Linked DNA regions of Homo sapiens. The protein of the gene in region 1 purifies or fractionates together with the protein of each later gene. This does not show direct contact. Each region holds a gene or a part of one and is shown on either strand. Other genes may lie near its edges. The genes, in order: FOXP3, HIPK1, RORC, SUGP2, SMC3, WRNIP1 and NUP133.

What was found.
Region 2: the proteins of FOXP3 (region 1) and HIPK1 purify together in Homo sapiens (affinity purification with mass spectrometry; one large-scale study listed by BioGRID and IntAct). This does not show direct contact.
Region 3: the proteins of FOXP3 (region 1) and RORC purify together in Homo sapiens (co-immunoprecipitation; one study listed by IntAct). This does not show direct contact.
Region 4: the proteins of FOXP3 (region 1) and SUGP2 purify together in Homo sapiens (affinity purification with mass spectrometry, with the first as the bait; one large-scale study listed by BioGRID). This does not show direct contact.
Region 5: the proteins of FOXP3 (region 1) and SMC3 purify together in Homo sapiens (affinity purification with mass spectrometry; one large-scale study listed by BioGRID and IntAct). This does not show direct contact.
Region 6: the proteins of FOXP3 (region 1) and WRNIP1 purify together in Homo sapiens (affinity purification with mass spectrometry; one large-scale study listed by BioGRID and IntAct). This does not show direct contact.
Region 7: the proteins of FOXP3 (region 1) and NUP133 purify together in Homo sapiens (affinity purification with mass spectrometry; one large-scale study listed by BioGRID and IntAct). This does not show direct contact.

The regions. Positions count from the first base shown.
Region 1 is NC_000023.11:49,258,129-49,262,314, reverse strand, and holds part of FOXP3 (forkhead box protein P3), read left to right. Parts: intron 1-3,787; 5' UTR 3,788-3,809; coding exon 3,810-4,019; intron 4,020-4,186. UniProt on the Homo sapiens protein: Transcriptional regulator which is crucial for the development and inhibitory function of regulatory T-cells (Treg).
Region 2 is NC_000001.11:113,970,328-113,974,513, reverse strand, and holds part of HIPK1 (homeodomain-interacting protein kinase 1), read right to left. Parts: intron 2,691-4,186; coding exon 2,560-2,690; coding exon of another isoform or gene 2,476-2,559; exon of another isoform or gene 2,456-2,475; intron 1,491-2,455; coding exon 1,002-1,490; 3' UTR 1-1,001.
Region 3 is NC_000001.11:151,821,609-151,825,794, forward strand, and holds part of RORC (nuclear receptor ROR-gamma), read right to left. Parts: intron 1-4,186. UniProt on the Homo sapiens protein: Nuclear receptor that binds DNA as a monomer to ROR response elements (RORE) containing a single core motif half-site 5'-AGGTCA-3' preceded by a short A-T-rich sequence.
Region 4 is NC_000019.10:19,008,982-19,013,167, reverse strand, and holds part of SUGP2 (SURP and G-patch domain-containing protein 2), read left to right. Parts: intron 1-2,825; coding exon 2,826-3,313; intron 3,314-4,186. UniProt on the Homo sapiens protein: May play a role in mRNA splicing.
Region 5 is NC_000010.11:110,587,749-110,591,934, forward strand, and holds part of SMC3 (structural maintenance of chromosomes protein 3), read left to right. Parts: intron 1-1,856; coding exon 1,857-1,960; intron 1,961-2,143; coding exon 2,144-2,243; intron 2,244-2,663; coding exon 2,664-2,824; intron 2,825-3,242; coding exon 3,243-3,384; intron 3,385-4,186. UniProt on the Homo sapiens protein: Central component of cohesin, a complex required for chromosome cohesion during the cell cycle. The cohesin complex may form a large proteinaceous ring within which sister chromatids can be trapped.
Region 6 is NC_000006.12:2,771,429-2,775,614, reverse strand, and holds part of WRNIP1 (ATPase WRNIP1), read right to left. Parts: intron 2,678-4,186; coding exon of another isoform or gene 2,617-2,677; exon of another isoform or gene 2,564-2,616; intron 1-2,563. UniProt on the Homo sapiens protein: Functions as a modulator of initiation or reinitiation events during DNA polymerase delta-mediated DNA synthesis. In the presence of ATP, stimulation of DNA polymerase delta-mediated DNA synthesis is decreased.
Region 7 is NC_000001.11:229,501,277-229,505,462, reverse strand, and holds part of NUP133 (nuclear pore complex protein Nup133), read left to right. Parts: intron 1-3,360; coding exon 3,361-3,464; intron 3,465-4,186. UniProt on the Homo sapiens protein: Involved in poly(A)+ RNA transport. Involved in nephrogenesis.

The DNA.
Region 1 (4,186 bases):
AGGGCCACACTGTTTTGCTGATTGTTGCTTTGCAATACAATTCAATACCCAGCCATGGGTGTCCCTGGCACCTTGCCCTTCTTTATTCTTGATTATTTCAGGCAGCATCAGTTGAACCAGCCAGAGACCAGCAAATGTTCTTATTTGAGGCAATCCTCCTCTCGCACACATGCACTCTGGCTCTCCATGCATGTGTCCATTTCTCTCAATGTCTCTCACTATCTCTTGTTCTCTCTTGCTCGCTCTTTGTGTGTGTCTCTTTGTCTCTATGTATCCCTATCTCTCAGCCAGTCCCCTGGATAGAGGGGCAATTGTCAACTTGAAGCCCTGCAGACACCTAATGACTTAACCAGACAGCGTAGAAGGGCCCTGGCCCTTGTCTACTCCACGCCTCTCCGTGCTCAGTGTAGAAGGGCAAATTGAAGACCAGAGATCTCAGGGCCTCACCGAAATGCAGCGGCAGAGTTGAAATCCAAGCCTAGATCTCAGGACTCTAGGTGGGACCCTGGTTCTGGCTCTCTCCCCAACTGCAGGCCTCAGTTTACCCCTCAGCACCCAGAAGGGGGAAGGGGAACCTGGGCTACCATTCCCCCTTCTGCCTTCTCACACGTTGGACCCCAACTTCCCACAGGTTGGACGATCCACGATCACAGTGTGGGGCCCAGCCTCACAAGAGCTGGGCTAGGTGAGGCCCCGGACTCCATAGGTCAGGAGGCCTAGTTGGCCAGAGCGTGGTGATGATGGAGGCATGTCAGTCAGTCAGGCTGTGTGTCCCCAGAGCTGGTGCTGGTCCCCGAAAACCTTGATTGTGGGGCCCCTCTAGAGAGTCTGATGATGGGCTCTGTATTGGCGAAGGCTGAGGCTTTTCCAGCTCCCCCCATGAGGCCCAGACCAAAGGCACACCAGCCTCAACCTCCTCCTCCCCCTGTTGCCATCTCTGGCGGAGTGGCCATGTATTTGGGAACGTTGTTCCAGAGTGGACAGGGAGACTGAGGCCCTAGGGAGGCTGGCTCTGTTTCCAGGCCTGGTAGGCAAGAGGCCCTATGAAGCAGCAAGCTGCCTGACTTTCAGATGGTTCCAAGGAGTTTGGACACCAGGGACACTGGCCTACACATACTGAGACTTTGGGACCGTAGACCCCACAGTCTGTGGTTTTGAGATTCTAGGATCCTTTAAATCTAAGAAATGCTGTTCTATGATTCTGAGGTCCTGGTGTTATACTATTTGAAGACCCCAGGGGTCCCAGTATCTGTGGAGCCTGCCTGGCACTCTCAGAGCTTCAAACCTGGGTCCTCTCCACAACCCAAGAAGGGCCAGGTCTTCAGAGCTAGGGGCTTGTCATAGTGGCCAGATGGACATCACCTACCACATCCACCAGCACCCATGTCACCCCACCTGGGCCAAGCCTGCTGCAGGACAGGGCAGCCAGTTCTCGGAACGAAACCTGTGGGGTGGGGTATCTGCCCTCTTCTCTTCCTCCGTGGTGTCGATGAAGCCCGGCGCATCCGGCCGCCATGACGTCAATGGCGGAAAAATCTGGGCAAGTCGGGGGCTGTGACAACAGGGCCCAGATGCAGACCCCGATATGAAAACATAATCTGTGTCCCAGAAACATCCCCCATTCAGCTTCTGAGAAACCCAGTCAGAAAGGGACGTCCCAACAGACAGTGCAGGAAGCCGGCTGCCCAGCCCGGCCCTCTAGGTCCTCTACCCCCAGACAGATCATCTCCATGTCCCTGTCTGAGAATGTATCTATGCTTTGCTGAGTCAGGCCATCCCACATGTGTTTGGGGAGAATTCTTAGCTCTGGCCAAGTGTCCAGGCAGCTTCAGAAGTGACCACAGGCCAGCCACATGGGCCAGGCCAGAGTGGTGGAAAACATCCATTTGCACCGAAATCGGTATTAGTTTGTTCTGGCTGCTATAACAAAGTACCACAACTGAGTGGCTTCAGCAACAGAAATTGATCATCTCACAGTTCTGGAGGCCAGAGTCCAAGATCAAGGTGTTGCCAGGGTTGGTTCCTTCTGGGGGCCATAAGGGAGAAGCTGCTCCAGGCCTCTCCCCCAGCTTCTGGTGGTTGCTGGCAATCTTTGTTATTTCTTGGCTTGAAGGAGCATCACCCCATCTCTGGCTTCATTCATTCACTCACCTTCTCATCTCACCAGTGCTCTCCCAGGCCCTTGTTCGGAGCCTCCACAGACCCACACTCCTGTTTCTCACGCAGTAATGTTCTAAGCCCCCAGGAGACTAAGAACTTAATACCTGGATTCTCACACTCATCTCCCTCAGCACCACAGCTCTGACAACCACCCCCAGGAGGTGACAGCAAAGAAAGGAAGGAGCAACTGCTCCCCCAGAACCCTTCTATACTCCCCCGGGCTGCTCTCAGCAGCTGTGTGCCCAACTCAGTGCTGTGAGGTGGAACGGGGAGATGGAGACACACACACACACACACCAGAGAGTTTATAAAATGTGCACACGGAAACACTTCCTAAAGAAAGAAGTGGAGTTCTCAAGTCACTATGGGACTACGGAACTCGGCATCTGAGCATCCCCTTCTGTATAATGGGGTTGGCTGGGCAGTCCCTTCCAGCTCTGGCTTCCTCTCAGACCAGGATTATAGGATCCTGAAAAGCCAGTGCTTCCCTCAGGGAGTGGAAGGTTCTGGGGCTCAGCAGGGGGCCCGGAGCCATTGTGGAGGGCTTTCAAGGTGAGGACAATAGAAGAGCAGGTCTTGCGTGGCTTGGACAGGGAAAGAGGAGAAGGAGTGGGCATTTGAGGCAGGGGGTGTAGCATGAGCCAGGCTTGAGGGCCAGAAATTGGGGTGAACTCTGATGGGGGCTGGGTAGAGAAGCTTCTACAGGCCCCAGCTCAAGAGACCCCATCTCTCCTCCTCTCTGTCACTTGCCATGCTGGATCCGTGCATGATCACACTCCTGGACTCGCCTCCTTGCCCTGAGATCCAGACCCCCGTATTCAGCTGCCCCCTCAGCTCCTCCACTCACATATTTAATGCCAGACTCTTCATGTCTATCTACACCTGCACTTTTGCACCCAATCCAACTCCCCGCCATGTCCCCCATCTCAGGTAATGTCAGCTCGGTCCTTCCAGCTGCTCAAGCTAAAACCCATGTCACTTTGACTCTCCCTCTTGCCCACTACATCCAAGCTGCTAGCACTGCTCCTGATCCAGCTTCAGATTAAGTCTCAGAATCTACCCACTTCTCGCCTTCTCCACTGCCACCAGCCCATTCTGTGCCAGCATCATCACTTGCCAGGACTGTTACAATAGCCTCCTCACTAGCCCCACTCACAGCAGCCAGATGAATCTTTTGAGTCCATGCCTAGTCACTGGGGCAAAATAGGACTCCGAGGAGAAAGTCCGAGACCAGCTCCGGCAAGATGAGCAAACACAGCCTGTGCAGGGTGCAGGGAGGGCTAGAGGCCTGAGGCTTGAAACAGCTCTCAAGTGGAGGGGGAAACAACCATTGCCCTCATAGAGGACACATCCACACCAGGGCTGTGCTAGCGTGGGCAGGCAAGCCAGGTGCTGGACCTCTGCACGTGGGGCATGTGTGGGTATGTACATGTACCTGTGTTCTTGGTGTGTGTGTGTGTGTGTGTGTGTGTGTGTGTCTAGAGCTGGGGTGCAACTATGGGGCCCCTCGGGACATGTCCCAGCCAATGCCTGCTTTGACCAGAGGAGTGTCCACGTGGCTCAGGTGGTCGAGTATCTCATACCGCCCTAGCACACGTGTGACTCCTTTCCCCTATTGTCTACGCAGCCTGCCCTTGGACAAGGACCCGATGCCCAACCCCAGGCCTGGCAAGCCCTCGGCCCCTTCCTTGGCCCTTGGCCCATCCCCAGGAGCCTCGCCCAGCTGGAGGGCTGCACCCAAAGCCTCAGACCTGCTGGGGGCCCGGGGCCCAGGGGGAACCTTCCAGGGCCGAGATCTTCGAGGCGGGGCCCATGCCTCCTCTTCTTCCTTGAACCCCATGCCACCATCGCAGCTGCAGGTGAGGCCCTGGGCCCAGGATGGGGCAGGCAGGGTGGGGTACCTGGACCTACAGGTGCCGACCTTTACTGTGGCACTGGGCGGGAGGGGGGCTGGCTGGGGCACAGGAAGTGGTTTCTGGGTCCCAGGCAAGTCTGTGACTTATGCAGATGTTGCAGGGCCAAGAAA
Region 2 (4,186 bases), on another chromosome or scaffold:
GAGATGAGCAAAACAGAGGTGTATTACTGAAAATTCATACTAATCTTTAGGCAAAGCTCATCAATGCCAGTATCTCATAATAGACAGAGATTTTGCATATAATAAAACCACCACCACCATGTAATAATAACCACCTTAATGGCTTTTTCGATAAAAAAATTTAAGCTGAATCAGAGAGAGAAAGACTTTTAAAAAATAATTTAAAAAAGAATTCATGGTGCTTCATTTAAAAAGAATACTTGGTGTTTTCACGCAGATATGGATTCTCTCACATTAAGTTACCAGCAAATGGTGAGCTGCCTTTTAAACACTACTTTATAACAAACACAGGAGCAATTGAGAGAATCTCAATAGTAACACAGAGTAATACGTAACCAGTTTTGCAAAAATAACAATTGCCCATTAAGTATAATATGACATTAAAACAAAACTGAAACTCTGTAAGTTTAAATGTCCAATAAACAAAAGGGAGATTGTGTAAGCCGCTTTTAAAATAAAATAGGCAAGTCTGAGTTTATAAACAAACAAAAAGTAATTTTTCTTTTTTTGTCATCAGATTTCAACTCCTTCTATCAGCATTTTTCCTGACCAGCAATCACAATAACACAAAATGAAATAAAGAGGGGCTTCACTTGTTTTTAAAAGCATTTATAGAAATCAAGTCAGAGAGACAAAATATTTTTCAGAGGGTAACTTCAGAACAATCTCTCTTCCTTGGTAACTGCAGAAGATGGGCATCTGAACTCTTCCAAGTACCAAAATTACTGTCACAAAAATAATGAATTTAAAAATAGGGCAAACTTTGGGAAGACTACAACAATGCAGTCAACACTGAGACAGGTTCCCCCAGAGAAAAACCTTCTGCTTCAGTGGGCCCCTGCAGAACAAGTTGCTGGCTAAGAAATTTCAAGAGGGTAAAGGAGGATCTCTCCATAGCCCAATATTAAGAACGCAGGGCCAGGAGAAGGTAGCCATGATTCCTCCTCCCTCATGCTCACCAACTATAAGTAGGAATACTGGCTGATCTTGGTAGGACTCAGCGGGTATCCAGTGTAAATTGTTGAGCCTCGGGAAGACCCAATGTAGGATTGGGTGGCAAACTGGTGTTGGTACTGAGCAGGGGCCACGCTGGCAGAAGTGAGGAGGCTGGGCCCAACACTGACAGGGACCTGGTGCACCAAAGTGCTAGGGTGAGTGGTATAGGCTGCAGCATGCCTTGAGGAACCCTGTGGGGAGAAAAGATGAGCAATGGAGCTGGTTGAGCCCAGTGCAGCAGCAGAAGTCGGGGCAGCATACGTATACAGATGAGCCTGGCTTGGCAGGTGAGCAGGGGCCGGGGCAAGGTGTGGGTGCCCTGTCGAGTGTAGCGGGCTGCCATGCTGGAAGGTGTAGGGGGCTTGGGAGAGAGGGGCCACAAACGCCTGCTGCCTGCGGGGGGCTGGGTTGCTGCTTCTCTCCTGTGAGGTTGGAGCCGCCGATGACTGCTGGTTCTGGAAGAAAGAAGGAAGAAGTGAGGAATCCTGAGGTCACTCCAGCTCAGGGCACCAAAGGCCAAGTTAAGAGCTCAGGTTCTGACTTGTACTGTTTTCGAATGGGTATAGCACATAATCTCCCACACTGGCATTGAATGCTGTCAGAAATCAGCCACCCCTCCTTCTGCCTCTTAGCAAGATAGATCCTAATCTGGCTCAGGTAACAGCATTTTGCTTGTAAGTATGACAGGAAGAGGGAGAATCAAGAGATCATAGGGTTCCCCACTCCTGCAAGTTAATAACTGGTGACTCAACTCACCCTATTCTGGCGTCAGTAAATTTGAATTTTTCCTAGCCTTTATTTCTTACCATTGCTTTCTTTTGTTTTCGTCCTCTAAGTTCTTCATACCCCTCTTGAAATGTGGAAACTAAAATACATGCACTAACTCAAACTTACATTTTCACTTGCATGTGCTCTCTCTCACATACCCTCATACTGACACTTTCTCACTACTGGTGGACATCATACAAGCACTCGAATTTTAGCTTCTAAGAGTGAACACAAATAGAATAAAGTAATGAGAGAAGCAGAAGGGTAGGTTGGGGCTGGGGGTGTTCGGAGAGTGGGGAAGTCCCAAATCGCAGACTCCAGCAACAAGTAGGACCTAGAACCAGTTGAATTTGGTGGCCAATGAGCTTTTCACAATCTCTTGACTCAAGTAAACAATGTAAGGATCAGCTTACTTATGGCCTGGGGGATAAAGAGAATCTGGTCTCAAAGCATATGCCTATCACAGACATGGTTAAAGCACCCCAGGCTCTTTCTAAATCCCAGACGTTTCTCTAACCTTCCAGGGTAGACTTAGGGAGGTCTGATGGAAAACCTAGAATGTACATCCTGAACACACTTACAGAGTGAATGAAGAGACACAGCATATGCGGTACGACGTAAGCCATAGAACACAAAATTGTTTGACACAAAAGGGGCTTCATTTGGCTTTATTCAGCATCCAGCCAGAAGCAGGGTTCTCCAGAAAGTAACAACAGTGCAGGGCCCAAACAGAAGGCAGTAGCCCATAGCACTTACCTGGCTAAGATTGAGTGGTTGTGCTGCACTGGTCCCCCCGCGTTGAGCTCGATACCCTGTGGGGGTGATACAGCATCCAGATGACTGCCCACTCACTGAAGCGACTGGCTTAGTCTTATTGCTCAGGAGACCTAAAAAAGCACCAGGCTTAATAGTTATGAGTAGACATCACTGAGCTAACCTCAGATGGCATCATATTAATTAGTCCACATCTGTATGTAGTTTGCAAGCATTAAGGTCTCAATTCTATTTACATCAGAAGAAAATAACCTGTTATCACCCATTTCTTTTCTGTCTTGGCACAAATCTCCACATAGGATCCTCAAAATGTTCACTTAAATAAATATTATAAATATTTTAACTATAATCTCTTGTTATATACAAGGAACGACTGGAAATACAAATATGCTAAGACACCATCCCTCTCTCCAAGAGTTTATAGTTTTATGTAGGAAGGGATTAAACAAGCACAGAAATGATAATGTGAAGCTGAGAAAGCTATTGGTAATTCTTAGGATATTAAAGTGGCAAGAGGGTTTAAAAGAAGGCAAAATTCTATCTTGTTGGACACTTACTGTCTTCAAATTCTTAGAAATTACAGGACAGCTGAATGTGAAATTTTGCTTGCTTCTGTGTTCCCATTAGGAAAACCAGAGCATTTATTCAGTGTCTCATGTGATAGCCTATATTCTCTGGACCCAAGAGCACACGGAGGTACTAATAATTCTATTCAGTAGCCTGGCATCAGGAAGCTCTCTCTCTTGTCTGCAATGGGACAACTGTCTACTTCTGAAAAGAATCACACAGAGGCATAACACAATACCCTCAAATTACAACCCTGTTTATGTCTATGGCAGTAAGATAATACATAATAAAACATAATTTATACAAGTATGGCCCAGGTTTATGTTGACACCTAAACTTCACCAACCCCTTCCTTGGTATGAAGTTGTCACTGAAAAGCAGCTGCCTTAACAAGACTACATTGCCTGGGCTCACTTGCATCTAGGTGGGGCCATGTGAGAAGCATTCACTATTTCCACTTATTTCCAGCCTAAAGAGGTTAAGACATGTGTGTGCCTCCTTCACACTTTCTTTCTCCTTCTGACTGGATGCTCAGGAATCAAACACTTGTACCAAGAAATTATATGAGAGAGAAGTAAAATTCTACTATGTTATGCTACAAAAATCTAGGATTTGTTACTGCAACTGCTATTACCCAACTAACACAATAACTAAACCAGGGAGCTTAAGTCCAGTATCTAACAGGGCAAAGATGATGGAAGTAATTGGGTTGGTAATAAAACCATCAAAAGCATCACTGCTATGACACTGGGTGAGAAAAAAATCTAAAGAATATAACTGTTTTCCAAAACACTTTTGCAGTCATTTTCAATATTATCAAGTCCTGTCTACATCTCAATTGCCAAATTCAAATCATCTGTGGCAAACCTAATTGCCTGCTAATTCTTCTTGCAATATCACACGTCTTGTCTGCTTTCTCCCATCAGCACTGAATGTGTTTCTGAGACTACAATCTCATTTGTATATTAATCCAAGCAAAATAAACACAGGAAGATAAAGTGATGGCCAAAAATAATTTCACATTGTGCAGGGAACTGATTTC
Region 3 (4,186 bases), on another chromosome or scaffold:
AGCTTGACTAAGGTCACACAGCCAGAAGTGGCAGATCTGGCATTTGAACCTAGATCTCTGTAATTCTGCAGCCAGTGCCCTCAAGCCTTAAGCTATATACTTTATGAGGATAAGACGCCCAAATGCACACCGGAGACCTGGGTAGAGGACATGGTTATTTGGCTGTAGGGGTAAAAGTGTGAGGTGATTGTGGTGGTCTAGGAACAGAATTCACAGAGGAAACCCACAGAACTAAAGCCAGGACTCCTGTTTGTATAAAGATCCCAAGAGATATTATTCCCTCTGTCCCAACTCTTCCTCTGAGGTCCCAGCCTCCTCCTGCCCTTACCCCTTTCTCTAAGGCCAAGTGGGATGACTTATATATCAACAACAGGGTTCCCGGGGACTCCTCAGGAACACCACAGCCCCTTTAGGGTATAGACTAGGTTTCCATACATCTTGGTATGCCTCCCTTTGCAGAATGAATGAATGAGTGAGAAAGAGGAATGCATCTCTTTCCTTAGCTTGAGCTCCTCCTCTCCCCACAGCCAGAACTCTCTGTCTCGATCCCCACCGAGACCACAGCTCCGGTCAGGGGTCACTTGCACACCCCAACCTGTCACCAGCCTCCCTCCTTTCTCAGCTCTCAGTTCCCCCAGCTTCTGCAAAGCTGGAAACCAAGGTGGTGGGTGCCACCACAGGGGAGCAGGAGCGGGAGGGCTGGGTGGGGGCTGGGGGAGAAGTGGTTCTACCTGGCGAACACTACCCCCAGCCCAGGCCAGGGCCCTCACCGCAGCTCCTGGTGAGAATTTTCTGCTGAAACACCCAGATCCTGGGGCTGAGAAAATAGTGAAGCTAAAACTCAGGTGGGCGAGGGAGAGTCTGGGGTTTTGAAAAGCCATGAATGACAGCCAGCCAGCCACCCGAAACCCCCTCCTGGTGCCTCCGCCACCCCCACAGTCTGGGACTGGAGAAAGGCGAGTGAAAACAACCAGTGAATGGGGGAGGGGATGAATCACTAGGAGGAAGCTCTGGCGAGTGGGAGCCCAGACGTCACCATCAGCACCTTCCCTGCCTTCAGGGCCATCTGTCCCTCATCCCAGAGCACCTTCACTGCTCCAGGAGGGTAGTGGACCCAGAAAGACCTTGGCTCTGGCCCTGAGGCCCTGCCTTGTTACTGTCCCTCCCCCGAAATAGACATCTCCATCCTTTTTGAGCCTCAGAGCCCCAGGGAAGGGGCTGCACTGCAGCAGCAGGCGTGGAGGTGAGACTTCAGAAAGGACTAGCTATATGGGAACAGGAGCGCGGGCCTTGGGCTGCCCGCCTGGGAGAGACCTTAGCCCTTGGAAAGTCCTGTTCCCTGTTAGTTTGAGTCAGCAGCACAGCGGCAGGGGATGGGGAGGAGCCCTTGGTAGGGACCGAATATTTTCATTGTGCTGGGACAAGCTGAGTCTTTTCAGAGTCTAGCACCTTGGGCTCGGTGGTTTGGTATTTCTGTTAGGAATGGGAAGACGGGGAAAGAGAAGGGTGCTGGAGTGATGAAAGGAAGGAAGAAGCCCTTCACGGAGTCCTAAGATGGCCCTGGGCTCTCAGGGTGATATCTGTGTACCCTGGGGACTTGGAGTCCTTTCTGGCCCACTGTTCCTCATGATCATGACCAAACCTAAGAAAGATCAGCTCATAGACAGTGACCTCACACCCCTCGGCCTCCCACCTCCCCATCCAGACCAAATGCCAGGGCCTGAGTGCCTATTGGCGCCACGCTGGCCATGCCCTTAGGGGAAGATGTCTGGGCTACCCTCCGTCTGGCTGGCTGGGAGTCTCTTTGGCGTACAGACACATTATCTCCACTTGACAGCAGCAGGTCGGATGGCAGGGTGCTGGTGCCATCCTTGTCAGAGCCACCCTACTTCCCTCTTACCGCTTGCCTAGACCCTGTGTCTCCCTGTCTTCCCTTTACTGCCAGTTATCTTTTCTCTCCGCCTCTCCCTGTGTCTATGTGCCTTGTGATCTTCTGCATTCCAGCTCTGTTTCTGGGCTTCACACCTTCATGTTTGTTTGTTTGTTTAAGAGACAGGGTCTCGCTCTGTCACCTAAGCTAGGGTGCTGTGACATTGATCATAGCTCACTGCAGCCTTGAACTCCTGGGCTCAAACGATCCTCCTGCCTCAGTCTCCTGAGTAGCTGGGACTACAGGTACACGCCACCATGCCCAGCGAATTAAAAAAAACTTTTTTTGTAGGGACAGCGGCTCACTTTGTTGCCCAGGCTGGTCTCAAACTCCTGGCCTCAAGCCTCAGCCTCCTGAAGTGGGATTATAGGCATGAGCCACCACGCCCGGCTGCACCTCCATGCGTTTGGCTCTATTGGTGTTTCTCCAACCACACCTCCAGCTGGACATTACTCTCTCCCTAGGTGTTCCAGAAACTCGCCCTCTGAGTTGGGCCTCTGCATCTCTCCTTATTTCTTGATTTGTTTCTGCTCCTTTTGTCGGGCCCTTGGTCTCTGGGTGTGTCACAGTCCCAAGCCCCATGTGCTTTGACTTTTGCCATCGGCGGTTGGAGGGGCTGGTGGTGGTTGGCACTCATTGGGGTCAGATAACTTGGGGCTATGAGATACCTGTAAATGTCCAAGTGAGAAGGACCAGTGGCACTGACCCCCTCGTTGGAGGAGGCCCTCTCTCCTACTTCCCCGCCTGGGTGGGGCTGTGTGTGTGTGGTGGGGGTGGGAATAATGGAGAGCTGGCCAAGTGTCTCCCTCAGCCCCTCCTGGGGACTCCTGCCCCGCTGCTGGGCTAGAAGCACACCTAGTCATTTCATCCCAGGGTTGATTTGCTCATTAGGGGCCATCTCTGGGAAGACCAGTCTGCCAGCGTTTGCTGCTAATAGAGAGAAGCTAGAAGGGAAACGGAAGCTCCAAGGGGCCCTTTCCTCTGTGTAGAAGCTGTTGGCTCTTCTCTCCAGCCCTCCTTATCCACCCCAGCTCATATGCCTGCACTGTGGCCTCAGTCCCTGTCACAGAAGTGGAATTCTTTTCTTTCCTTGGTTTCCCTTCCTTCTAACCTCTGGGAGAGCTGAGTCTCCATCATCACCCTTGGGGATGCCTGCCTTAGGGCACTGGGCTCTCTCTTGGCCCTGGGCCTTTGGAATGGGAGACTCTCCATAGTTGGTTTTGTTGTTCTATCTTAAAATTCAGCTCCCTTGTTTTGCGGATGGTAGACCAGGGCCCAGTGACTTGGCTTGTCTAAGTCTATATGGCTAGCCAGTGATAGGCGGCACAAGTGCCTGGTCTTACACTGTCAGTCCAGGGGTCTTTCCAGGACTCAATACGGCCTCCCTTCTGTGGCTTGTGGGAAGACCCCAGGTTGAAGCTGGGGCTGCTTCAGGCCTCAGCCACAGGGGCATGGGGCTTCCCTTTTCCTCCTTCACCTTGTGCTCTGAGAGCTTCTCTGGCTTCCCTGGCTTCCCTTCACAACAAATACAGGGGACTTCCTGAGGTTGCCCACCCTTGCTCTGCTGGAAGGCACAGGAACCCCAGACATCTGCCCACCAACTGTTGGCCCAGGGCTCCAAGCCAGGAAAAGGGTGAGGCCGAGGTCTTTCCAATCCCATCTCCATTGCCTTGCTTCCCCGGTCAAATGGGTGACTGACCCTGGAGAACCACACACACACATACACACACACCCCACACACACACGCACACACACACATGCACACACACGCAGGCATGTGCCCGGGTGCACCCTGACTGGATTCCACATAGTCCTCATGTCCCTGGATTGGGCAGAAAGCCTGGTGGCTTTGAGGCCTGGACGCGGGGATTCTGTGCCCTGCTGCCTGCCAACCTCAGTTGACTCTCGCTGTCCTGTTGCTTCAGAGCACAGCAACTGCTCTGGCCTCCTTTTACTCACAAGCAGGCTGGAGGCACAGAGGGAAACACCGTAACAAGGGAAACACTGTAACAGGAGAGTGCGTTCAGGGCCCCTAGTAATTACCAGCCCCCATCAGATACCAGCTGTGTAACATTGGGCCAAGTACGCGGCCTCCTTGGCTCTCAGTCTTTTTGTAAAATTAAGGGCCTGGATACCTCAGATACTTTTGGAGGTTCTTTTTGGAACTCAGGAATTCCTCAACAGTCCTCTTACCATTGCTGCTGTCAGGGAGCCGCCTGGCCAGCAGGACTCCCCAGCTGCTCCACCCATCTCCCA
Region 4 (4,186 bases), on another chromosome or scaffold:
GAGCTGGGTGCGGTGGCTCATGCCTGTAATCCCAGCACTTTGGGAGGCCAAGGTGAGCAGATCACCTGAGATCAGGAGTTCAAGACCAGCCTGGCCAACATGGTGAAACCCCATCTCTGCTAAAAAAAATTCGAAAATTAGCTGGGTGTGGTGGCGGGTGCCTATAATCCCAGCTACTCGGGAGGATGAGGCTGGAGAATCACTTGAATCCAGGAGGCAGAGGTTGCAGTGATCCGAGATTGCGCCACTGCACTCCAGCCTGGGTGACAGAGCGAGACTCCGTCTCAAAAAAAAAAAAATCATTTAAGTCCAAAACCATGATAAGAGGAATTGGATGAATCCAAAACCATGGTAGGAGACATTAATGTTTCTCTGAAATGCGTAGACGACGTAATCCAAATAAGGTTGTGGAAGATTTTATAACACAGGAAATGAGCATAAACAGAGACAATCTGCTAATATTTGTTGAGCGGTTAATGACTACTAGGCAGTTTTCATAGCACTTGCCTCCTAGTGAAAAGCTTATAACGCAGGCCTCACAGCTGTATGATGAAGTAGCTACTGCTTATCATCTTCCCTGTCTTACAGATGGAGAAACTGAGGCACAGAAAGGTTCCCAGCTAATAAGTGGCTATGCTGAGATTTGAAGCCAGCAGACTGGCTTGTTGAGTGTTCTCTGTTCTTGATGTTATGTTCCACTGGAACTTGGGAGATGCATTTGGGACTGACATCCTCGGACTGCACTTGGCATCAGAACCATCCAGGAACAAGGAAAGCCATCAGAGCCATGAGTGACTGGGGCAGTCAGGTCACCTGGCCCTGATTCTGCGCTCTGCCCTTGATGAGGAGTTGCCTTGCTGGGGCTGTGTTTGACTTGAGAACCAGAGTGCCCATGTTGGTCAGCATTCTCTTAATTGAGCGCTATTGCTTATTAGGGCATGATCTTGCAGGATGCCACCGTTAGCCCAACAGAGTGCCAGGGCAGCAGTGGAGCCGGTACTCAGTCGTTTTGTCAGGTCCAGACAGACCTCAACTGGCTAACAGTGTCAGCAGGAGCTTGTGTATGGAGCTGCCTGCCAGGGACATGCCACATCACACAGTGCTGCCAATGCTGTGCAACACACAGCCACCTTACTTCTAGTTGGCTTGTCACTGGTAATCTGGAACCTCATCTAATAACTGATATGTCGCTACTTAATATCAAACAATCTGAAAGCCACCTGAAATACTGCCATACTTACTAAGCAATATTCTTCTTTAACACAAACTGAAATCAAATATTCACAAAAGTCTGTTATGTTTGTTGTGGGGTGGTTATTTATTTATTTATTTTTAAAGAGATGGGGTTTCGCCATGTTGCCCAGACTGGTCTTGAACTCCTGGGCTCAAGCGACCCACCTGCTTCCGCCTCCCAAAGTGCTGGGATTACAGGCGTGAGCCACCACGCCCATCTTAAAAGTTCGTTATGTATGAAATCACAGAGAAAATCACAGCACACCCAGGAAATTCACGTGGGCCACATTATGCCAATACAGCAAACTAGAAACCAGCAACAACCAAAATAAAACATGTTTCTGAATAACTTTTGAGTGAAGGGTAATCATAGCTGAAATTAGAAGCAATTTAGAAGGAAGTGGCAAGAAGAACATTATATACCAGATGCAGTCATAAAAATACTTAAGAGAAAGAGTGACTTCAGGTGACTTTATTAGAAATAGTGGGCCAGGTGCAGTGGCTCACACCTGTAATCCCAGCACTTTGAGAGGCTGAGGCGTATGGCTACCTTGAGCCCAAGAGTTTGAGATCAGCCTAGGCAACATGGTGAAATGTCCTCTCAACCAAAAACACAAAAATTAGCCAGGCGTGGTGGTGCGCGCCTGTAGTCCCAGCTACTGGGGAGGCTGAGGTGGGAGGATCACCTGAACCCAGAAGGTCGAGGCTGCGGTGAGCTGTAATCAACTCATGAAGCTAGAAGGAAAATGATGAAAAAAGTAAAGACACTAGAAGGAGAAGGTTTTTTTTTTTTTTAAAGATAGGGTCTTGCTCTGTTGCCCAGACTGGAGTGCAGTGGTGCAATCACAGCTCACCACAGCCTCTCGACTTCCTGGGCTCAAGTGATCCTCCCACCTTAGCCTCCAGAGTAGCTGGGACTATAGGCATGCACCACCACCCTGGCTAATTTTTTTATTTTGTGGAAATGGGATCTTGTTTTGTTGCCCAGGCTGGTCTTGAACTCCTGGGCTCAAGCAATCCTCCCGCCTCAGCCTCTCAAAGTGCTGGGATTACAGGTGTGAGCCACCACGCCCAGCTGAATATTTTTCTGTTAGTACATGTAGCTCAACCTTCTCTTTACTGTTCTCATCATGATGACTGGGTCATAAGATTTCACACCTGGGCCGCAGGCTCCTTGGTTAATGTTCTCTTGTGGTTCACATCACACTTTCCTTGATGCAGTCAAAAGCTCACCGAGCACTCATCCTGGCTGGGCCATTTAAAAGGTGTCAATTCTGCCTGCCAGGGTGCTATGGCTCCAAGGTGACTGGTTTGTGTTTCCAGGCCATCAAGAGCTGGGAGCTCCCTCACGGCTGCTGCTGATGGAAATCAAGGAGGAACTCAGTTCAAACTCCCGATTGCCCTGTGGTCACTCTTAGCAGGGCAGCTGTCTTGGGCCTAGCTCTGGGTCCTCAGTAGAGCCAGGCAGAGCCTCTGAGACAGGAGAGGACAGTGAGGAGTTGGCCACTTAGAAAGGGTTTGTGTTTGAAGGAACAATTTGGGACCTGGTGGTGTTTTCATAAATGTCCCGTTATGCTTGTTTTGTTATCTAGGTTTTTGTCTGATGAAAATAGTCTGGAGTATAAATATTACAAGCTGAAGTTGGCAGAAATGCAGCGGATGAGCGAGAACTTGCGAGGAGCCGACCAGAAGCCGACCTCAGCAGACTGTGCAGTGAGGGCCATGCTGTACTCCCGGGCTGTCCGCAACCTCAAGAAGAAACTCCTTCCGTGGCAGCGGCGGGGGCTCCTCCGTGCTCAAGGGCTCCGGGGCTGGAAGGCGAGGAGAGCGACCACCGGGACCCAGACCCTCCTATCCTCAGGCACCAGGCTGAAACACCACGGCCGGCAGGCTCCAGGCCTCTCACAGGCAAAACCATCCCTGCCAGACAGAAATGATGCTGCCAAGGACTGCCCGCCAGACCCAGTTGGACCTTCTCCTCAGGACCCCAGCTTAGAAGCCTCAGGCCCATCCCCCAAGCCAGCAGGAGTGGACATCTCTGAAGCACCTCAGACCTCTTCTCCCTGCCCATCTGCTGACAGTGGGTGCTCACTCCTGTCCCCCTCCTCTGGGCCCCAGTCCCTACTCTCCCATCTCCAGGGTCTCTTTAGAATTGGGGGGGCCTGCAATCTAGGCAAGGCAGTGGATAAAAGCTCTAGGGACCTGGCCAGGACAAGTGTACATGTTGGCGCTTTCTCTCTTGCTTTCTTGAGAGAGCTGCATGCGAGTCCTGCAGCTCCCTCCTCCTCTTCTGAGAGCGGAGCTGGTATGAGGTGCTGCCCCATGCCTTCGTGCTCCCCGACAGGGTCCTGCTGCTGGGGCCGTGGGCGGTGCATTGCCTGAACTTGGGATCCCATGTCCTGCTATATCCTGGCCTCCCTTGATAGTCTTCGGGACTGCCTTGTTCTCATTGCGCCTCCTCATCCCCAGGGTCTCCACAGTTCCTGTTCTTGGGGTTCGCTGACCTGCACTGCTTCCTCCGAATCGACTAACTTCACCCCTTCTGTTTCTTCTGTCACCTTAGCTGTTTCTTTCTCTCTGTACCACAGGCCTGCTCTCTGGCCAGTGCTTCCTAAGCACTAAGTGGGAAGGAGAGAGCAAAAAAGTGTCCACAACTGCTGCATTATTTAGGTGTTGCTGTGTCGTGAGCCGTTCCAAACTGTGGCTTAAAACAGGAGGCATCAGCTGGGCGTGGTGGCTCACACTTGTAATCCCAGCACTTTGGGAGGCCAAGGCGGGTGGATTGCCTGAGCTCAGGAGTTCGCAACCAGCCTGGGCAACATGGTGAAACCCGATCTCTACTAAAAATACAAAAAATTAGCTGGGCGTGGTGGCACATGCCTGTAGTCCCAGCTACTCGGGAGGCTGAGCTAGGAGAATCGCTTGAACCCGGGAGGCGGAGGTTGCATTGAGC
Region 5 (4,186 bases), on another chromosome or scaffold:
TGAATTGTTTAGGACTGTAAAAGTTGAAACATTAATTTAGGAAAACTGACTCTTCAAGGTTTATACTCTTCTTTTAGCATGTGTTCAGATAGCCTGGGGATGAATTAAGTAATTGCTGCAGAAAAGTTAAATTTTACCTAGGGAATTTGTTAACTCTTTTATGGTTTCAGATACCACTGAGTCCCAAATTCCTTATGTGTAGAATTAAAGGGTTTAATTATCCAAGATGTTAAAAGTCATTCTGATTATCCAAGATTTTTTGAGACAGAGTCTCGCTGTGTCACCAGGTTGGAGTGCAGTGACACAATCTCAGCTCACTGCAACCTCCCCATCCTGGGTTCAAGTGATTCTCCTGCCTCAGCCTCCCCCAGTAGCTGGGACTACAGGCGTGTGCCATCACGCCTGGCTAATTTTTGTATTTTCAGTAGAGACGGGGTTTCACGATGTTGCCCAGGATGGTCTCCATCTCTTGACTTCATGAGCTGCCCACCTCGGCCTCCCAAAGTGCTGGGATTACAGGTGTGAGCCACCGCGCCCGGCCAATCTAAGATTTTGTGACTCAGTAGTAACATTGACTTTTTGTCAGTGGAATTAGTAGTAACATTGACTTTTGTCCATTAAAATTTTGGACAAAAAGTCAGTGTTACTACTGAGGATGAATAATTGTCAGTACTCTGTGGGAATATTTACAATTACTTTGATATCTGACAATAATTAGTTATAATACAAACAGATGAATGTAATTACTTTATGAAGCAGTTTGAAGCCCTTCCCCTGAAGGATGATCTTCAGCTTTATTTTGCTTGTCTTATTGCTTCCCAGTAAGGCAAGGATTTTTGTTTGCTTTGGTCTTTTATGATTCCCCAGCTCTTCTAAGAATGCCTGGTACATACTGGGGTTTTGGTAACTTCACTAAGTGGATGAAGTGTCAGCTTCCTTAAACTCTAGCCAGTGAGGCTATTGGATTTTTTCAGCTCAGTATAGTCTACTAAATTAATGAATACAGTTCATTAATTCTCCTTAAGGAAACAGCATCTTACGTTAGGTTCTTAGAGATTTGTTATAGGTTCTGCCAAGATTTTTAACTCATTTTTCTTGAATGTAAAATAGTTGAAAATAGTTTTTGTGTTCTGTTGTGTGTGTGTGTAGAGGGGGCAGTATGAAAGTATATAATGGACTATTATGAGAACTTAGAATTTTTTTTCTAAAATTCTGGAGTGTATATTATAGAAATAGGAAGATTTAGATCACTAATGAACAAATTAACTTTTAGCAACATGTTTTATAGTATTTAATGGTTTGTGTTTTCTGGTGTGGTATGCTCTTTTGCCTAAAGACAACTTTTAAAAACTGAAATGGGGCCGGGCGCAGTGTCTCACGCCTGTAATCTCAGCACTTTGGGAGGCCGAGACGGGCGGATCATGAGGTCAGGAGATCGAGACCATCCTGGCTAACACGGTGAAACTCCGTCTCTACTAAAAATACAAAAAACAAAAAAAACAAACTGAAATTGGATTTTTCAACAGCATCATTGAGGTATAATTCACATACAGTAAATTGTACATATTTAGTGTACATCATTTTTCCTAGTCAGGAAAGTGGCAAAAATAAAGTATATAATTTGATGAGTTTTGACATACGTATACATCTGTAAAACACCACACAGTTAAGACACCACACACCACAGTTAAGACAATAAACACGTTTATTACCCAAAAGCGTTTTCCATACCCCTTTGTAATTCCTCCCTCACCTTTTGTCCGCCTCCCCCATCCATCTGCAACCACTGATCTGCTTTCTATCAGTGTAGATTAGTTTCATGAAATTGAATTTTAAATTTATTTTTATTTCCATAGAAACTGGACCAGGATCTTAATGAAGTCAAAGCTCGAGTAGAAGAACTGGACAGAAAATATTACGAAGTAAAAAATAAGAAAGATGAACTACAAAGTGAAAGAAAGTTAGTATAGACTAAAATGTGCATTAATGTTTTCAGTAATGTTCGTTACTAGCTGTTATGTGGTCTTTAAGTTACAAGTTAACCGGTCAGGCTTGTTTTCTGTATTTTGATTCTAAACTGTATACTGTTAATGCATCCTCATATGTGTTTAAAATTAAAGACAGTCTACTTTTTATTTATTAGCTACTTGTGGAGAGAAGAGAATGCAGAACAGCAAGCACTTGCTGCTAAAAGAGAAGATCTTGAAAAGAAGCAACAACTTCTTAGAGCAGCAACAGGAAAGGTGGGCAGGTTCTTTTCATCACCTCTGTTTACACTGAGTCATTGAGTTAATCGTTATGTAATAATTTTTTACCTTTCAAGGTGTAGGTCATGGGTTCCAAGTGATAAATAGGAGTCCAAATTATCTTCTAAATATGAAATGATAGAGATTAAATAGTTTTATTACTACACATACTATTAATAGCACTTTTGATGTTCAGATAAAGAGCCCATTTTTAACACTACTGTTATGGAACAGAGCCTATCATATAAGGTGTTACATGTAGTTGGCATATTGTGAGGAGGTGATGTGTTTGTTGGAGAGGATGTTTAGTTTAATCACTGGTATATTTTTAAAATGTATGGTGTTGTGGGCTCATTCCTTACCAGGAGTGCCATTGATGATATTATTTTAATATTTTTCATTTCTGACAACTTACAGGCCATTTTAAATGGAATAGACAGCATAAACAAAGTGCTAGACCACTTCCGTCGAAAAGGAATAAACCAGCATGTTCAAAATGGCTATCATGGTATTGTAATGAATAACTTTGAATGTGAACCAGCTTTCTACACATGCGTGGAAGTCACTGCTGGAAACAGGTTAAAGCTTTTGCTTGATATTTAGCATTTTTAGAAGAGGGAATAAGAATAGCTTAAACAACTTTTGTAGTTTTTGTACAACATATCTTCCATTATCTTTTTATATCTCGGTTCCTTAACTTTCTAATTAAAGAAGTAGATGCTAAGTATTTGTTCCTAATTATAGAAGCTAGAACTTTCCTCTTTTGGGAGTTTCTCCCTCCCCGCCATTGGAATTTTTAAAGTAGTCTTATTTTCCAAAATTATTTGGATTATATAGGAAAAAACTGTTTGATGCTTAAGTGTTTATAACATTTTAAAAGTGCACACCTTTAGTCCCAGCTATGCAGGAGGCTGAGGTGGGAGGATTGATAAGTTTGGGCAACATAGGGAGACCCTGAGTACCAATAAAGATTTGTCTTACTCTGTTTATATTTAGGTTATTTTATCACATTGTTGATTCAGATGAAGTCAGCACGAAGATTTTAATGGAGTTTAATAAAATGAATCTTCCTGGAGAGGTTACTTTTCTGCCTCTTAACAAGTTAGATGTCAGGGATACAGCCTATCCTGAAACCAATGTGAGTCATTGTGTGATAAGGTGTATTTCTCTTTTATAATGTTATTTTTTATCACATAATCTAACACATGCTAGTGCCCAGGCACTATACACTGGGATTCAGTGGTGTATGAGATAAAAATATCTGTCTTCCCATGGACCTTAGTGCTGAGTGGGTTTTGGGGAGGGAGACAGAAGTCACAGCTATGATTGGTGTGGTGATGCACGCCTGTAATCCCAGCTACTTGGGAGGCTGAAGTGGGAGGATCATTTAAAAAGAAGAGAAAAAAGCTAAGATATGAAACAAATCATTGCAAATGTGCAGTGTTAAAAGCGTAAGTACAGGATACTTTGAGAGCATATCTGGGAGTGACATAATTAAGGTTAGGGAGTTGGAGAAAGATTCCCAAGGAACTGTCATGTATAGTTTAAAAGTGTCTTGACGTACTTAGGATTAAATGAAAAAAATGGCTAGTAAGGTGATAGACTTCGGAAGCATAACATTGCTTTTGTTGGTAACAAAAGTGCACTTTAGGTGGATTAAAAATATTCTTCAGACACCATTCTTAGAACAGTGTAATTGCTTTGAGGTACTTGACTTCAGAATGTTGATGGTAGCATCAACTGTTTTACCATCCTCTGAAGTTAAAGCTGAAACCCCATGAGAATGATCAATAATTTAAGTGGAACATTAAGAATCTTGTAAGCTATCAAAGGGTCTGACTTTTTCTGCTATCACATCTACAAATTGTCTTTGAAGTTTGGGTAAGAAAAATTGAGTCTCAAAAACATGATGTATGAATGGAACGAGACACAAAGGAGTA
Region 6 (4,186 bases), on another chromosome or scaffold:
CTTAGACAGCTGGATATGTAAGTTGGAGAAGGAGTGCAGTAAGTAAAAATGTACCTGTTATTTCAAGGCAGAATGAAAGAATATGCATGGCTTGGTTAAACTCTCCCTCTCTAAATTACAAACCAAACCCCACAAATCTCTTCCACTAAGGAAAAGGAACATTTCATGGTCAGGGTGATAACTGCTGTGTAGAAGTTTCAACCAGGGATATGCATCAAGTTAGACACAAATACAGCCACATGTACCTTACCTACCATAGACTGAGCTCAAATCTCCAGGGGCAGACCCTGGGCAAGGCATGTTTCTAAAATGTATCCCAGGGAAGTGTGATGTGCAGATCTGGTTAAAAGGCTCTCCTGCTGCTCTTACACAAAGAAGTGCCAAGAGAGAAAAGTCAGAACAGAAAAACCGAGCAGTGGGTCCATCCTCTGTAAACTTGGCACCTCCACCCCTTGTAGCACTTGAAGTCACTGAGAAGACAGAGACATGCCTTAAACACTGGCTCCATCACATTGAAGCTGGTTGGTCTTGGGCATGTTACTTAACCTTTTTGTGCCTCAGTTTCCTCATCTAGTAAATAGGAGGTAATGAGATCTACTTTGCAGAGCTGTATTGAGGACTGAATGAGATTAAGACATGTGGAATGCTTAGAGCAGTGCCTGCCATGTCATGAGACTCGACAAATACTGCTTTGGTATCAACAGCGAGGAGAATCACCCTCATCAGACTGTGCAACAGCATACTCTCCAGAACTGCACATATCCAAGGCAGAGCCCCAGATGCTGCCGCTTCCATAACATCAGAGTGAAAGCAAAGCAAAACAAAACTGACTTTCTCCACAAAGAGAGAAGGTACATTTCAGATGACGACGTCTTTCTGTTTAATCCCATGGAGGCACATGTCTTTCCAAATTACATTATACTTGGTAGGGGTCTGTAGTGGGTTGAATAGTGACCCCAAAAGATGTAAGTCCTAATCCCTGGAACCTGTGACTGTGACTTTATTTGGAAATAGGGTCTTTGTAGATGTAACTAAGGGTCTCAAGATGAAATCATCCTGGATTTAGAGTGTACCTTAAATCCAATGACAAATGTCCTTACAAAACACAGAAAAAGAGAAGACGTAAGGACACAGAGAAGAAGGCCACCATGTGAAGATGGATGTAGAGACTGGAGTGACATAGTCATAAGCCAAGGAATGCCAAGGGCCATCAGATGCTGGATGAGAGCATCGCCTTGTTGATACCTTGATTCTGGTCTTCTGGCTTTCAGAACTGTGAGGATAAAGCTCTGTGTTCTGAGCCACCCAGTTTGTGGCAATTGTTACAGCAGCCACAGGAAGTGCATCCAAGGACCATGAGATCTGTGGTTCTGGCTGCTGGTGCTTTTATGGCATTATTTTAATGCACCCTTGTATTAAAACAGCTATGTTAATGTACTGTATTAATGTACTTAAAAAATTTTTAAATAAAAAGATTGACATCTACTCTATACCAACCATTTATTCTGGCCAATCCCTTGTATTCTGGAGTTCCACTACCTTTCTTTCTATTCAATGGCACAAAAGGTTATTTAAGACACTTTAAACTTTTATAAAAAGAAGAATCCATAGCCACCTTGTTTGGGGGCCAGCTTGTCAGGGGCTCTCCTCTCCAGATGATTAGAGAAAAGCCCCACACCCAGTTACGCCACAGCCCTTACCCAGGGACAGACGCCACTTTCTGTCTTCCAACCACCTCTCGGAACTCAGCCTAGCTAGGCAGAGGGCAGTTATGGCTTCTCATTTCACTCTCTTGATCTCCAAAGACTTGTATACTCTATCTGGTTCACAAATAATTGATTCTTTAGGAGTGTTTTTGACTATGTATATATTCTATGACCTAGGAATCTATATTCCTTCAAAGCAGCAAGTAGTGCAGGATGACGAAATGCTAGCTTACTTTTTCATTTTCAGCAGCACAAGCTCATTCTTCGTATCATGAATCATGGACATTTTTTTCCTGGCCTCCAAAATTAACCCAGAGCAGACAGAATCTTCACTGTTTGTATCATGTGATCCAAATATTTTTGGGAGAGCAAAATACCTGAACACTACTGCTTAGCCATACAAACCAAAGCAACTATGGCGTAGACAATGAGCTTTCTATTTCACTCAGTTAAATTCTGCTTATCCTTCAAAACTCAACTCCGCATCCCCTCATCTAGGAGGTGAAATACTGGATTTCACATATTCTGAATGCTGCTTCTCTACGCCCACTGCACTTGGCGTATAAGCGTGGCACTGGAAGTGGACCTGCTCCCCTAGCCTTCATCATACTGCGCTCCCTCTGAAGGCACAGGAACAAGCTTTTCAACCCTCAGCCAATGCCTAGCATATGCAGGAGCTTCAATTTTGACTGAATAATAACTACAGGAGGGAATTTTTTTTTAAAAAAAGAACACTTATTTCACTTTAATGGGAATTTATCACTTACATGAGTATACTGTGTGACAACTCACAATTCCTCAAGTGCAATCAAGAACGGCTAAGCGGCAGCTTGATTAGTTTCCAAATCCAGTGCCCTGCTCACCTCCTCTCACGTGCAGTTCAACAGCCTGGGACTTCTCTGTAAATGTTCTAGTTGCTATCTAGGGCACCAAAACATGACACAAGAATACAAATGCACACCAATAGCTTCCTGGAGAGAGAAAGTAAGTATATGGGGTTGGAAGTCTTTTCTTTCAACTAGATTAGTGTCACCAAATCTGATTTATATGCACAAGGATGTATATAGAGCTGTCAACAGGGATTGGAAAGCAAAATTTTACCTAAAACAACTAAAAGACATCCCAATCCACTCTTAATTATCCCTGACAGTTGGGGTGGCAGGTACTTGTATTCGGAAATCACTTGTAAGAGTTCTTTCTGTGGCCTATGATATCTCCTAACTTAACTTCTTGTTAGAATTGCTAACAAGTTGACCAATTAATGGTTTTAAGCTTAACATTCTTTCATTTTACTCTGCTTGCTGCTGATGAAAAGGGCAATAGTATTAAAGAAAAAGGCTCTTGATACCTGGGTAATTATCCCTTATGCTGGATAATGCAAAACATATTAAACTACTTTTCTCATATCGAAAGCTAGGATTTATTCATTTCCAAACCATTCACAAAGCACATAATGTGTGCCAGGCACTGTGCTGGGGATATGAACAGGGACAAGCTCCTGTCCTCACAGTCTTCCCAGGAAAGCGGGGGACACAAGATAGCAAATATAATTGGGATCAAGTCTAAGCAAGCGGTAGTGGAAATAGTAAATCATTTACTGGATATGGGAAGTTTTCTCTGAAAAGCAATTTTAGCAGATAAACAATCTCTAGCTCATTGTTATATCAGTTTCAATAACTAAATCTTAATTATTTCACTTGATCTTCTCAAACTTTAATGTGCCTGCAAATCACCTGAGGATTTTTAATAATAAAATATAGAAATTCTTCTCACAAGGATGAGCTCCTTGGCTGCCGCCTTTCTCATTTCCTTTAAATTCCTGCACGGCAGTGACTGGGGAGAGGTGAAAAAACCTGAGGGTATCTGAGTAACAACTGATTATTATTGACTTCATGTCATCAATATTAATTATTGATTTCATGTTCTATTTCATGAACTGATGACATGAAATCAATAAAAATCACCCCAGACAAGTACACATGCAGAATATTAAGTTGCAGATACATTACGATAACCAGTACACAGAGCAAAGAACACACAGAAACATGAAACATGTTAGGATTTCCCCCCTTTTCTTTCAATTTGTCTTTACCATGTGGTTCTATGCGTCTGTAATGAGAATTCTGTTACGGGAAACCTACACATGAGTATCCCACATCTGAAGTGCCTGGGACCAGAAGTGGTCTGAATTTCCTATTTTTTTGATTTTAGAATATTTGCATTATATACTTACCAGATGAGCACCCAAAATCCAGAAATCTGAAGTGCTCCAATAAGCATTTCCTTTCACAGCATCATGAAGGTGCTCAAAAAGCTTTAGATTTGGGAGCATTTTGGATTTCAGATTTGGGATACTCAACCTGTACTACATATGAGGAGCTGGCAGCCCCCTTAGGCTCTGACAAATGCCCACCACATAAAGCACTTCTGAGTATGAGTCCATGTGGCTGATACCACAGGTTCCACACACTGCTTGTGGC
Region 7 (4,186 bases), on another chromosome or scaffold:
CCATTATCTTTGGGGGATATCTTCCAGGATCCCCAGTGGATGCCTGAAACCTTGTATAGTACTAAACCTTATATATACTGTGTTTTTTTAATACATACACACCTATGATAAACTTTAGTTTATAAATTAGGAACAGTAAAGATGAACAACAGTAATAATAAAGTAGAACAATTATAACAATATACCAGCAGCACTACTCTTGTACTTCGTTTGGGGTCATTAACTAAAATGAGAATATAAGCATTGCATTACTGCGACAGTTCATCTGGTAACTGAGACAGCTACTAAGTGACAAACAGCTGGATAGTCTCAGGGGTGTCCAATCTTTTGGCTTCCCTGGGCCACTTGGAAGAAGAATTGTCTTGGGTCACACATAAAATACACTTACGATAGCTGATGAGCTAAAAATAAATAATGAAAAGGTCTGTGTATAAATCTTATCATGTTTTAAGAAAGTTTACAAACTTGTGTTGGACCGCATTCAAAGCTGTCCTGGGCCACACGTGTCCCTGGGCCATGGGTTGGACAAGCTTGGGGTATACAGTATGGATATGCTGCACAAAGGGTTGATTCACAACCTTTAGGCAGGACAGTATGAGATTTTATCACTTTACCCAGAACAGCATGCAATTTACAACTTAGGAATTGTTCATTTGAATTTTCCATTTAATATTTTCAGACTACGATTGACCACAGGTATTTGAAACTGCAGATAAAAGGGGGAAATACTGTATATGCAAAATTCAGTCCTGTTTACAGAGTTGATCAGGTTTATGAAGTTTCCCGTGAAACCCCAAAACTGGCACCTCATGTTATTGGGTTTAATAATACAGTAAAATCAAGTCCTACCTCCATTTCTGGATCCTATGTAGCATCCCAGAGGCTGTGTGCACAAATTTATGACGTTACCATTGTCGTGGTGTACCTTTAGAAGCGTCTGTTGGTGGAGAATTAGTGTGGAATTTTGACAGATACAATCAACACAAGCTTAGAAAGGCAACTTTAAAGATGAGCAGTTGGATGACACTGGAAGAGCAAAGTTCAGAGCAGCCTTAATATCTGCTGAAGTCATTTTTATTAAGGCTTGAATTCTAGATCTTTGTGATTTTTCTGGAACAGTATTTTTCAAATTGTAGGGGTGACCAAAATTTAGCGGTTCTTGACCAGCATTTAAAAAAAGAAGAAATAGAATGCATCTCATATGTTTAGTAAATTTTGTTCGTTTTACTTAAATTGTATATGGGTGTATCGTGATGTAAAATGTATTATACTGTGAATAACTCTATTTACTGTATAACTTAATAACAGTAAAAAAAAAATGCTGAAATTACTCTGTTTTAGAAGAAGGAATATATCTCATCAACTGGAACTTGGCACATCTTGCCTGTAGGTCCTTGGGAGCTTTAGGGATAGTTGTTTTCAGACAACTACTAACCTTTCTATACATTGTTCTGTTTTAAATAAATAAATGTATATATATATATTGGTATATATGTGTATATTTTTCCCCTCTAAAAATTTCAGTTTACATTTAAACCTTTTAATGTACTACTCATATTTTAACAGACTAGATTAAATAACACAGCCCCAAATCTAGAAATTCAGAGAGTCCTTAGAAATTAGGATATATAAAACAAAGAGGTGTGTCAACTTGAAGAACTCTTCCCCACTTAGAAACCTGCCAACTACTGTTAAGTCAGCCCTTAAAGGCACACCGGTCGAGGATCTGGAGTTGTAGTGCTTTCAAGAAAAAGAAAATTACTGAGCAGATAGTTCAGTTGAGCAAAAAGCCTCACTCAGCCTGGGCTTGGTTTGATATTTTTGCTTGTACATTGTCTATGCCTTTTACTTCACCCTTCTACCTTTCTGTAAGTAAAGAGCAAAGCTCAACTTAATAAAATTTCCAGGGCTGTTAACACATTTGTGGAGGTTTACCACCAATACTTAAGATATGTGCTAATTTAGTTTTGTCACTTAATAGAGAACGTAACTCTTTGTCTCCATGTACTAAATAATTTATCATTCCTTTAAGGAGCTCTTATTTGAAAATTATGTGCTTTTGGTCCTCCAAAAGCACATTGTTTTCCTTGAAATGTTTTATATAGTTAATGAGTTTGTTATTTGTTTTACTTTATCGATATAATTATAAATGTTGCTAAATATTTCTTTTTTGTTTGTTTGTTTTGAGACAGAGTCTTGCTCTGTTGCCCAGGCTGGAGTGCAGTGGCGCGATCTCAGCTCAATGCAACCTCTGCCTCCCAGGTTCAAGTAATTCTCCTGCCTCAGCCTCCCGAGTAGCTAGGATTACAGGTGCACGCCACCATGCCCCCATGCCTGGCTAATTTTTTTTTCTATTTTTGGTAGAGATGGGGTTTCATCATGTTGGCCAGGCTGGTCTCGAACTCCTGACCTCATGATCCACCCACCTCGGCCTCCCAAAGTGCTGGGATTACAGGCGTGAGCCACCCTGCCTGGCCTCTCTTTTGTTGTTTCTGCTTACTTATTTTTTGATATGGAGTCTTGCTCTCTTGACCAGGTGGGAGTGATGTGATCATGGTTTACTGCAGCTTCAATCTCCTGGGCTCAAGTGGTTCTCCTGTGCCTCAGTCACCCTAGTAGCTGGGAAGTGCACTGCCAAGCCTGGCTATTTTTTTTTTTTTTTTTTAAGAGAGAGAGTCTCACTATGTTGCCCAGGCTGGCCTCAAGCAGTCCTCCCAGGGTGGCCTCCCAAAATATTGGGATTTATAAGCATGAGCCACTGTGCCTGGCCTAAATATGTCTTATAGGAAATAAGCTATCTGGTCTGTTTGTAACAAAAAATTAAGGAATATTAAATGTCCCAAATACACTTTTTGCCTTTAGATATATTTCTTTTTTCTTTCTTTTTTTTTTTTTTTTTTTTTTGAGATGGAGTCTGGCTCTGTTGCCCATGCTGGAGTGCAGTGGCACGATCTCGGCTCACTGGAACCTCCACCTCCCAGGTTCAAGCGATTCTCTTGCCTCAGCCTCCCAAGTAGCTGGGACTACAGGCACGTGCCACCACACTCAGCTAATTTTTTGTAGTTTTAGTAGAGTTGGAGTTTCACCATGTTAGCCAGGATGGTCTCGATCTCCTGACCTCGTGATCCTCCCACCTCGGCCTCCCAAAGTGCTGGGATTACAGGCGTTAGATATATTTCTAAAGTTGGTTATCAGAGTTAATAGATCTATTGTTTTTGGTGTTGATAATTTTGGAATATTCAAAAGTATTTGTTGTGAGGTAGTCGTTTCTGAGTGTGCCAATTACTTTTTTTTGATAAAGCGTGTGGTAATAAAGATTTATACTATAAGATTAATCACCCACCTCATTTTTTCCTTTAGTCGATGACCAGCTGACCATTAACATAGATGAAGGTGGATGGGCTTGTCTGGTGTGCAAAGAGAAGCTCATTATTTGGAAGATTGCTCTGTCACCTATTACTAAGGTAATGGCTCTTTAGAGAGCTGGAACAAGATAGAGGAGAGGAATGCCAATTGACTTTTCATTTTTACCCTAATTTTTTTACAGTTGGAGGATAGTCAATAGGAAACTACTTAGGCATTAAGAGTTTGCATTTTCATAGTGATGTGAAATAATGAGCATGCATACACATTTGTGTATTGGGAAAAAAGTTTCCCCCTTTTGAAGATCTGTGTTGTTTACATTTAATAAAATTAGAGTCATTGATATTTCCAATGAATATAATGCTAATCCGTCTGCCTAATGAAGTATCAGACTAAATGCTATCCACATAAGCAAATGAACTTTGAGTTTGCGTATTTCTGAGAAGACAGAACTATGTTTTGTTGAACCTACTGAATGATGCTTAATAAAATAAGAAAATATGATACCAGTTGCTAGTTAAACTTTTCACTTGTCCACTTCCAACAGTGGGTTATCATTTGCATGTCTAGTAACGTATCCTCAGCAACCTTTTTCTGTTTGTTACAGCTTAGATACACTACTCTCTTCTACCAGTCATTACTTCCTTGGCCATGTTCCGTTGGAACTCAGGGCTCCTGCTTACCTCAATTCTTCACTTCTGCTGAACTCTGTGTTACTGCTGCCTAGAAAAGGGTGTATGTGGTTAGGAGTAATAGGTGAGGGTGAATTCCTGGGGGACATACTGAGTTAGCTGCGGGATCCTGATATTTGGCTGAGAGTCTA